3 linked regions of the Homo sapiens genome follow. The protein of the gene in region 3 purifies or fractionates together with the protein of the main gene of each other region. This does not show direct contact. Each region holds a gene or a part of one and is shown on either strand. Other genes may lie near its edges. The genes, in order: RIPK4, TEDC1 and ENPP6.

The links.
Region 1: the proteins of ENPP6 (region 3) and RIPK4 purify together in Homo sapiens (affinity purification with mass spectrometry, with the first as the bait; 3 studies listed by BioGRID). This does not show direct contact.
Region 2: the proteins of ENPP6 (region 3) and TEDC1 purify together in Homo sapiens (affinity purification with mass spectrometry; 3 studies listed by BioGRID and IntAct, with this or other methods). This does not show direct contact.

What each region holds. Positions count from the first base shown.
Region 1 is NC_000021.9:41,760,433-41,764,082, forward strand, and holds part of RIPK4 (receptor-interacting serine/threonine-protein kinase 4), read right to left. Parts: intron 1-3,650.
Region 2 is NC_000014.9:105,494,179-105,497,079, forward strand, and holds part of TEDC1 (tubulin epsilon and delta complex protein 1), read left to right. Parts: intron 1-1,701; coding exon 1,702-1,908; intron 1,909-2,901. UniProt on the Homo sapiens protein: Acts as a positive regulator of ciliary hedgehog signaling. Required for centriole stability. May play a role in counteracting perturbation of actin filaments, such as after treatment with the actin depolymerizing microbial metabolite Chivosazole F.
Region 3 is NC_000004.12:184,088,734-184,092,383, forward strand, and holds part of ENPP6 (glycerophosphocholine cholinephosphodiesterase ENPP6 precursor), read right to left. Parts: exon of another isoform or gene 3,364-3,650; intron 2,650-3,363; coding exon 2,444-2,649; 3' UTR 1-2,443. UniProt on the Homo sapiens protein: Choline-specific glycerophosphodiesterase that hydrolyzes glycerophosphocholine (GPC) and lysophosphatidylcholine (LPC) and contributes to supplying choline to the cells.

The sequences.
Region 1 (3,650 bases), on a different chromosome or scaffold from region 3:
CTATGGAGAATCAAGAGAGATCCAAAGTCAGAAGTCAGCATAGGAAAGGGCCCCTGAGAGAATCGGGAAGGCTGAGACCTGCGCAGAGTCCAGGGGCACCCGGGAGGCCAGCAGAGCGGAGCAGTCGCTGTGGATCCCCTTGGGCTTGGCAAAGCAGAGAGGGGAAGCCAGCAGAGCACACACACTCTGTTGGAAGAATCTGCAGGATGGGTCCATTGACTGCATGTGGAGGGGAGAAGCTTGCAGGACCTCTCTGGAGCTGCACCAGGGGTCACTAGGCAGCTCTCTACGGTGGACGCGGGAGCACCCCAGGAGGAGCAGCTGGGGGGTGTGGGGGGTGGGCAGGTCGAGTGTGTCTGAATACACTCAAGGAGCAAAGAATCCCACTGGCCTTGGGAACAAGTGAAGCAAGTATCAGGAATGAACGTGAAATTATTATGAGACAAAACTTAGGGGAGCACGGCCTGCTTTCCTAGCGCTCTGGTTAAATGACCAACTAATGGAAAACAAGATGCCCACCAGTGTGCAGTGCTAGCCTGTGGGGGTCCCTGGGCTGAGCTGAAAGCTGCCCCATCACCAGCATACCATCGGCTGCTTCCTCCCTCTCCAGGGGAAATCCCTCTCCCTGCAGCCACAGGCTTGGGCCAGGCTCTGGGACCCATCAAGGGATGGGGGGTGCAGATCAGATCGTGGGACTCTCAACCCTGTCCCCAGTCTCAGTGAGCATTGGGAAAAAAGGAAGACGAGGACCTGATGCCAACGTCAAGCATCAGCTAAAATGAAACCGGTCACCAAAGAAGGAAAATGACACCTCTCAGCTCCCAGCCTTTCTCCTCCTCTGGGAACACCGGTTGGCTGAGGCCCTCATTTGTTATTTAAAGGAATACCAGCACAACTTCCAACCCGGCAACTGCCACTAACTTCCAAACCATCGGACTGGGACATGGTACCAGCTGCTGCTTCTCTTTTATGTCTTGTTAAGAATCAGAGTTATGATTTGTCTGTTTCCGATTGCTCAAATGTGGCCAGCTTGCCGCCCCTCCCCTACCAGTGTGGCCTCCCTCCTCCGGACACTCTGCCCCGGGGCGCTGGCGAAAGTCCTTCCGTAGGACTCAGACCCACATCCACTGTGCAACCGTGTGAGGCACACCCTCCTCGCCGGAGGGTTTTGAGGAAATGACAATTCGGGTGTTTAGAGGCCAGCCATTCGCAAGGGTCATTTTTCCACATTAAGTAGACATTCTGAGAGTGAACTCTCTAAGCCAAAGCTGACTGATAATAAACACGTATTCTGAGAACAATGTCAATCAAAGGAAGGCTGAGTAGCTTATTAAGTGGAAGCTCTGAGCCACTCCACAAATAGTGTTTTCTTTTATTTGCCCAAAGGGCTTAATACATAAAACCCCGGTGACTTCTGATTGCAGAGTGAGCTCATTGGCGACTCTAACAGCTACGGGCTGGCAGCAGTGCACACCCCTCCCCAGCGCACCGAGTTCAGCAAGTACTTTACTCTCCCTGCCCCGGGCTCTTTCTGCAGAACGGAGACCCCATTTACCTTACTTTAAAAGAAACAACAAACAAACAAAAAAGGGCCACTGCTGCTAGTTGGCTCCTGAAAGCGGATCCCGGCTAGAATCTCCTAACGGAGTCCACCCCAGCTTTGCGCAACTGCCTGAAGGGAGCCCGGCACGACTTCCCCCTTCCATGGGCCACACATTTGAGGGCACTTTCTCGAGGAAAATCAGCTGTCCTGGAAAAAAAAAGTCATTGTTTCCGTGGACAAAAGTGTTGTGACAGCATGATCCAAACTGGCTTGGGGTAGACAGGATTCCAGCTGAGGAAGGGGGTCCCGGGACCGCCCTGTGGGAGATCTGAGGCCCAGGAGTGGGGGTGGGGCGGCTCCCTTGCCTACCAGCCTGGATTTCGCTCAGAAGCACCAGCATGTCCTCAGAAACTTTCCACACTGTTTACCATCCAGTAACCACTGGGCCAAAACCCACACGACCCCGCCTTCCAGCCCCTCTCCAGGTGCTCCCTAGGCGCACATCTGGGAAACTCCAGCGGCTTTAGGAAGCTCCAGCCCTTCTGGGGTCGGGTGTCGCCCGGCGGCATTTGCAATTCAATAAGCCTGAAAGGGCCTCTTTGCAACAAGCTGCAAGAAGAGGCTTTTCTGATCAGGGAGGTTAAGAAGTGCTCAGGTACTCGAAGCACAGAAAGAACCCACCAATTGCTTTTGAGCAATGGCACTATTTTTTTTAATACATTTTTTTCTCCTAAGCAGTGTTTCTGGCTTATTTTAATGATTCTGGCTTATTCTGATGACCACACAAAAGGAACTGTAGATTTATTACTATTATCATTTTAACACGTGGAGAGATGCCGAATCCAGCCTAGGTGCTGGGGTGGCGGCCAGGGAGCACAGAACATCACACAGTCACATTCGCACCGTCTCCAAATCGCATTTCTTACTGTTGACAGTGAAGTCAACGTTTCTGGGTTGACCAGAAGCCCCTCTCGTCGGTGTTAATTAAAACACAACCTAAAAACTGTGCCTTGCTCCAAGCGCAGCTACGCTTAGGCACAGTTCAGAGGGGGTGGCATCCTATTCCCCTCTCCTTCGCTGCTGGTGAAAGCGTTGCTAATTCTGCTTCCACGCAGGAACGGGAAAAGCCCCCCCTCCCCCGCAAAAGTGTCCTGGGTCCTGTTTTGGGTTCCACATGAAAAATCTCTGGGCATTAATTAGGATTAACTTGGGGTTCAACTTTTTAAAGATACGGTGAGTAGCACTTAGATGAATTCGGTTTTCTCCTCATTTAGGGCTAGCCAAAGTGTATTTCGCCCTCCCAGGGAGGCCAATGGAGTAGCGAGAAATACGAGAAATATCATCACACCAATCATCTCTAAAAGGAACTTCTAAAGAAGTCCCAAGGTTCTTCTCCAGGCTCAGAAATTCCAAAGACCTGTGGACCAGGCCAGCTGCGGTTTCCCCTGCAAGCACGCATCCTGGAAAGGGGGAAAGAACTGCCCCGGGACATGGTCTTGTGCAAGCGGAGAAGCAATAAACGAAGGGAAAAGTGAGAAGCAGGGAGGTGGGGGAGACGGTGAGACCGCTCAGGTAACAAAGAGCTCCGAAGGAGAAACCTAGCAACTACCTTCAGGAAAATGCAGCCGGAAAATGTGTTTCATCATCTGTTAGCTGATGCCTCTCAGCGAGGCCTTCTGCACACCAATCCAATTATGTTCCCAGGGAGCCTCGGAGGGGTTCCCACACGGCTATTTTTAAAACTGACAAGAAACGGGCTTGTCCAATCGTCAGCTCTGTTGTTACAAACCTGGGGTTTGCTCAGGCTCGCCCCGACCAGCCAGGGCTGAATGTGGCAGGAGCGTCTCCCAGCCGGCGCCCCGCAGGCACTGGCTTCTTCTGAGCATCCCCTTAGCTGGGGGCTGGTAGGGGAGGAACGGGGCCTTTGGGATCACTTTATTCTCTCCAAACTGGTCACAGCACCCATCCCTACACCCCACCCTAGGCCCTGTGACCCCCACAATGAGGGTCAGCCAGGGAGGCCAGCTGCCTCTCCAAAGCCACCCCACAGGACCCTCCGAGGCACCGAGCCCCATGATGAAGGTAATCTCAGATCAATGGGGTGTCA
Region 2 (2,901 bases), on a different chromosome or scaffold from region 3:
AGGACGCAGGAGCCTGGGCTGGGCAGGCAGCTGGCTAAGGGCAGGCTGTTGGAATAAAGGAACACAGATCTCAGGTGTGAGCTGGTGGTGTTGGCATCTCAAGCAGGTCTCACTTGGTGTGTCAGGGGGCACCTAGGGGTGTGGGGGGCCAGCCCACACTGGGTGAAGGGTTGGGCACAGGGCTGACTGTGGGAGGGGACAACTGCCCTTCAGAACCCAAGGCCAGGCCCACATGGGGTGTGCTGGACCGAGCCTCCCAAGCTGGAGCCAGCTCCATAGGCCCTGGAGACTTGCAGTCCCGTTCTGCTTGCTACACCCGGACCACCCGGGGGCACGGCGCTTTCTAGGCAGGCCTGCCCCCGGCGACCGGGGCTCTGTGGTCCCAGGCAGATCCTGAGCCCTGGATAGCATAGACCTGGAGGAAAACCTGCCTCTGAGCCCCAGGTGGCTGTGTGACCTTGGGGAGACAGCATCCTCCTCTGACTGGGGCTGCTGGAGCACTGACCCAAGTGTTAGGGTTGACCTAGCCCCAGGCATCTTCCCCAGGGATGGCCGCTTCCTCGCACCCTGCTGCTGGCCTTCCATCCTCATCCTTCTTTCTGGGGGTCTGCCCGCCCGTCATCACTGGCTTCTTCCTCTTGGCTGGCTTGGTTTCAGGGGATAGGGCAGGGCTGGCTGCCACTCTTTTAATTTATTTTATTTATTTATTTGAGACAGAGTCTCGCTGTGTCGCCCAGGCTGGCATGCAGTGGCACAGTCTTGGCTCACTGCAACCTCCGTCTCCTGGGTTCAAGCGATTTTCCTATCTCAACCTCCTGAGTAGCTGGGACTACAGGCACCTGTCACCACGTCCGGCTAATTTTTTTGTATTTTTAGTAGAGACGGGGTTTTGCCACGTTGGCCAGGCTGGTCTCGAACTCCTGACCTCTGGTGATCCACCTGCCTCGACCTCCCAGAGTGCTGGGATTACAGGCGTGAGCCAACCACTTGGGCTGGGCTCTGTACTGTCCTGAGTGACGGGCTGGCACTGTCCTGCTCCAGGTGCATATGGCCGGGCAGGAGGGCAGAGGCTCAGGGCTGGTGTGACCTCTTCTTCCAGACCCAGTCCCCCTTCTCTGCCTCTTCCCTCTCCAATCCCAGAGACTTGGCCCCTGTACCTCATCCCAGGCCTGCCCAGGGGGACCTAGGGGTCAGAGGCGGATGGCCTGGCTCCTGGCCCCTAGTCTTGTGTCTGCTGGGGCTTCCTGCTCGTAGCAAGGGCCTGTGGGTTCCAGCTCTGCAGCCCAAGCCTGGGGGATTGCATGCCTCACTCATGGGCTTACAGGGCCCAACCCCTGACGCCTGCCTGGCCCCTGGTGCCAGCTGGACCTGTGTCCCTGGCTGAAGCCGGGCTGGCGCCCACCCAGTCAGCCTGCACTGGCGTTGGCAGTGCTGAGGCAGCATCCGGGCGTCCTGGTCTGCCCTTGTCCCTACCTGCCTTGTAGAGGCGGCTCAGCGAAGCCCAGGCTTCTGGCCCCTGGGACCCCTGGGTTGGGGCAGAGGAGAGGCTGCCCTGGCCCCAGGCTGCTCCTGCCCAGTGCCTCTGTGGGACCACCCTCTGTGGTGGGCTGGGGGGGCCTGGAAGTGAGGCCCCGCCCTCTCCCCGAAGCTGTGTGCGGCACTGGCCAGGTGGACTGGGGCCATGGCTGGCTTCCTTCCAAGGTTTCTGGAGCGGGAGCTGCCCAAAACCTGGACCTGGCCTACCCAAAGTGCCTGCACTCCTTCTGCACTCCTGGGATGGGTCCCAGAACCTTCTGGAATGATCTGTGGCTGGTATGTGAGCAGCCAGGTCTGCTGCCGGGTGACTGGGCAGCACCCTTGGATCCTGGTGGGGCCTCAGCCTGCAGCCTGCTCTCCCCTTTTAGGGCGGTAAGTCGGGGAGGCTGGCAGGGAAGTGGAGACCGCAGGACTTGGGGGTGGGTGGGAGGGGGTGGCGAGGGGGTGTGTTTGCTCCTCCTCTCCTGCCTGCTCCCACCCCTGGCCCTTACCTTCTTGGGAACTGTGGTGATTGCCTTCTGTCAGGTGTGTTGAAGCGGCCGTACCCATGGTGGAGGCCTTTGCTCTTCTTGTGGCGTGCTGGGGTGGGCAGGTGGGCTGCAGCCCCGGCACCAGCCTGCTCCAGCTCCCACACCGCCCACAGACCTCCCTGTCCTCATATTCTCTGACCGCAGGCCTGCCTGCCTCTGCTCTGCTCCGCCCCAGAGGGGCTGGGTTGGACCTGGTGTTCAAGGCCATTCCTATCTGCCCCCCAGCCCACTGCTGGAGCCCCAGGCCCCTGCAGCCTGCTCCACACTCTGGGTTCCCGGGGGAAGCAGGGGTAGAGTGGGGCAGGATTCAGGTGTAGAGGGCCTGTCCCCAGCAGGGGTCCCCTTGCCCCGGGCCCAGGGTCACTGGTACAGATAGCCCATGAGCGAACCTGGGAGGCCTTCCGTGTGTGGGCAGAGCAGCTGCTGTGTCCTGGCCATTCTCCAGCCGCCTGTCTGTGGGCACTGTGGGCAGGTACCTTTGTGCAGGGCCATGGGGCAGGCAGGGCGGGGTCTCCTGGCCCTGCCTGACCCTTCACTTGGGAATGTCAAGTGTGGCTCAGCTCTGCCTTCTCTGCCACCTGGGTCACTAGGCAGACTCCTCACTGCCTTAGGGGGTCCCTGAAGTTACAGGGGATGGGTTTTCCCTCCCCCAGAGCCTGGCTTGCTCCTTCGTTTGGGGCCTCCCCGTCCGCCTGCAGTCCCCGGATACAGCCCGCATTCAGTGAGGGCTGTGGGGCAGAGGTCTAGGCTTGAGAGGCACCTGGACCTGTCCCTGACCTTGTTGGACTGGCAGTGGGGCTGGTGTGGGGGACAGCGGATGTCCTCAGAGCCGGGG
Region 3 (3,650 bases):
TTTTCCCTCAGTGTCTGAATCTTCTTTATTGTTTACCAGGATTCATGATTCCTTTTGTAACTTGTTCTCAGTCATTTATTCAGTTGAGTAATTACACTTTGTCAGACAAATATCTAAAGTTTTATTATGTAACTTGCAGATTTTCAGGACGAGTGAAGGAGGAAAATGGCAGAAGAGTTCAGGAAAGACAAAAATGCAAGACTGTGTCTAAGTTTATGCCTCTCTTGAGTTTGATGATCCAATTTTAATTTAATCATTTGAGTATCTCTTAGGGATTCTTCCTCCACAGTGGAGGAAAGTGGGCTCTACTGAATTCATTGGAACACCGTCCTTTAAGGAGAAAGAAACTTTGAACAATAGACGTCTTTTTCAACAACTACTGCCAATGTTTTGAAAGTTGTCATTTGTTTTCAGCTAGATAACAAAGGCTGAAGAGTTGCCTTCTTTCCAATTGATCCGATGGTTTACTGGCGCTTTTAAAACACATTACATAAATCTTTAGAAATCTTTTGTGAAGGTAAATTCAGTATTTTTAAGCAGTGATCCTTTGCTCTCATGATTCATGGCATGGAGACAGCACCCAGCTTTCCTGAATCAAGGTGAACGTTGATATTCAGTTTTCAAGGTAACACACCATATAAGGCCTCCATCGTCCTGAGGAGACCTGATATATTGCCTTTTCCTGACAAAAAGTCTCACTTGCAGATGTACCTCAATTAGTGCAAACTTTTTTTTTCTTTCTATTTTTTGGGGGGGGTGGAGGATGGGGTCTTGCTCTGTTGCCCAGGCTGGAGTGCAGTGGTGTGATCAAAGCTCACTGCAGCCTTGACCTCCTGGGCTCAAATGATTCTCCTGCCTCAGCCTCCCAAGTAGCTGAGACCACAGGCATGTGCCACCATGCCTGGCTAATTTTTTAAAAATCTTTTATGTTTTGTAGAGATGGGGGTCGCCCTGTGTTGCCCAAGTTAGTCTGGAACTCCTGGCCTCAAGGGTTCGTTTGTCCCTCCTTGGCCTCCGAAAGTGTTGGGATTATAGGTGTGAGCCACCATGCCCAGCCCAAACTCATTTTTTAATGCAGTGATAGTGTATGCAAGTATATATATGTATATAGATATAAATGATCATGTAAAAAGGAGTTATTTCTTGTGTTACAATTTCTCCTATAGCAAACACAGATGACTAAGCTAAAAATATTTCAACTCAGGCTCAGTGGCTCTTCTCAAAGGTATCAAAAGAACTTAGGTCTCAAAGGTGGTACTTTGGCCAAACTGTTTCCTAATCAAACGACCAGTTAGTTGGTCAGTGACTGGGACTCTGCTCCATCATGCTCTCTCCATTCTCCACCCAGCACCATTTTCTTTGGAATTCTATGCCACTCAAAGACTGTTGTTGAGCAAGCCATGCTGCAGGGGTACTGGTGTCCAGGATTAAGGCTTAGTGCATCACCTCTCTGAGCAACCCACCGAGATCCTTGCTGATGCCTCCACATTCTCATCAGTGAGCCAGCCCTTTCCCAGGCTATAATGTCATGTCAGGGATTGCTCTTGTCTGCACCCTATATTGGGAGCCACAGAGTGGCATGTCTGAGGAAGCCTTTGCACAGGTGAACGGACAGGGAAGGCAGGCAGGCCATCCATTTGTCCATCAATATGCAGGGCCTGCTATGTGCCGGGCTTCATGCCACGATACACTATGTGTGATAAGTCTCACAGAAGCCCATGTCCATCAGAAGCTTTTCTGCTCCTCAAGGCAAGAGAGAAATTTTCGTGCACTCAGACTTTGGGAGGGCACTCATGTCTTTCACCTTGTTCTATGAGTTCTCCAATCCTTAGTGATTTATTTATTTTTTGATTGATTGGTGATCCATGCTAAGTTACGTCCTTTCTGGAGCTCAGTATAAGATGAAAAAATTCCATGAGCTGGGTCAGAAATAGACAGTAGCTTTTGCTTTCATGTAGACCTCCTTTTATCAGGGATGGAAGGAACAGTACAGGATTGTGGCCACAGACACTGAGGATGGCTCCTGGGTGTGGACAGGGCACAGACAAGGGCCTGGTCTGAGGGGGTCCTTTGTGCAAGGTGGGACAGAGAGGGGCCCAGAGCCACGTCTGTCTGCAATAACCACTCCAAGTTTGGTTGCTGCAGGAGCAGGTCCCTGCTCAGAGAGTTCATCCTGAGTAACGTGAAAAGAAAGGAGAAAATGACATATAACTGCACAAATGGAAAGCTAGGATTTTCCTACCTTCTGGAAAAACAAGGTTTGTATCTTTTTTAACAAGTAGGAACTTTTATGTATAGAATTATCCAAGAATAATGTATTTACAATGTGCATGGTCTTGATTGTGTTAATGAAGCTATTATTCACACATAAAATGAAAATCATCTGGCTTTGGAGGCCCACTTTGCTGATGGTGTTTTTTTCTGAGACAAGCAATATGATCAGTTATGCAAGCAGGAAGAGAAGAATCAGTGCCAGGGCACAGTGGCTGGGCCAGACAGGCGGGGCAGTGCTGGCGCGGCCCTTCAGCATGCACATCACCCTGGACCAGGATCCGTTGTTGGGCAGCGGGGTGATGCCCACCACATTGCACATGACATTGTAGACGTCCACCGACCTGATAGGAGCAGCTCTGAAGTTGGATTTGAAATCTGAAAGGGAAAGGCAAACAAACAAGTTGTCATGGCAGCTCCAGGGCAGAGGTGGGCTGAACGCAATAAAGAAGAATTACATTCAGGCTGCAGGTGACATTGAGATTAGGGAATCAGCTCCATCAGTGGGGTGTGGCCTAGTGAGTGTGAACATAGAAGGGTATCCGGAAGGCTGTAGGTTAGAAAGGGAAACAGCTTTCTATGGCTCATGGAGATGAATTTCTTTAAAAGACAAGCAGCAGAGCCAGGCTTGGGGGCTCACACCTGTAGTCTCAGCAAGTTGGGAGGGCGAGGAGGGAGGATTGCCTGAGCCCAGGAGTTTGAGACCAGCCTGGATGACAGAGCAAGACACTATCTCTAAAAAAAATTTTTTAAACCAGGCATGGTGGTGTGCTCCCAGCTACTCGGAAGGCTGAGGTAAGGAGATCACTTAAGCCCAGGAGTTCAAGGCTGCAGTGAGCCATGATAGTGCCACTGTACTCCAGCCTGGGCAAGAGAGCAAGATCCTGTCTCAAAAAAAGGTAATCAGCAAACAGACTTTCTTTGTGCATAACTGTGCTCTCTTTGTGACAACAGCACTTTCTTTGGGGGCTGCGGGGAGGCTGAAGTGCCATCTGATGCTGCTCCATGTCTGCAGAGAGCACAGCAGAGCCTGTATGGTCACAGAGTGACTGTCTTGCCCTTAACCAAATTAAATGCTATGTCATTTTTCAGAACATCTATCTAGCCCGGACCGACAGCCAGAGTGCCAGCGTCTACTGCAGAGGCCGCACGGCAACTCAAGAATGTTTTCTCACTTTGCTGCCCCATCGAGGTCACAGGTCTTGATGGAATGTGAAACTGCAGTTTTCTCGGTGCTCGCTAGCTCAGCAGCCATGGCGATGGTTTCCTAAATACATTTGGAAGATGAGTGGAACACTCTTTGGGAGCATTTTACCAACAGATAAAATACATTAGCCATGTGGAAAATGAGCAAACTGGTATCTGAATCAGGGATCCAT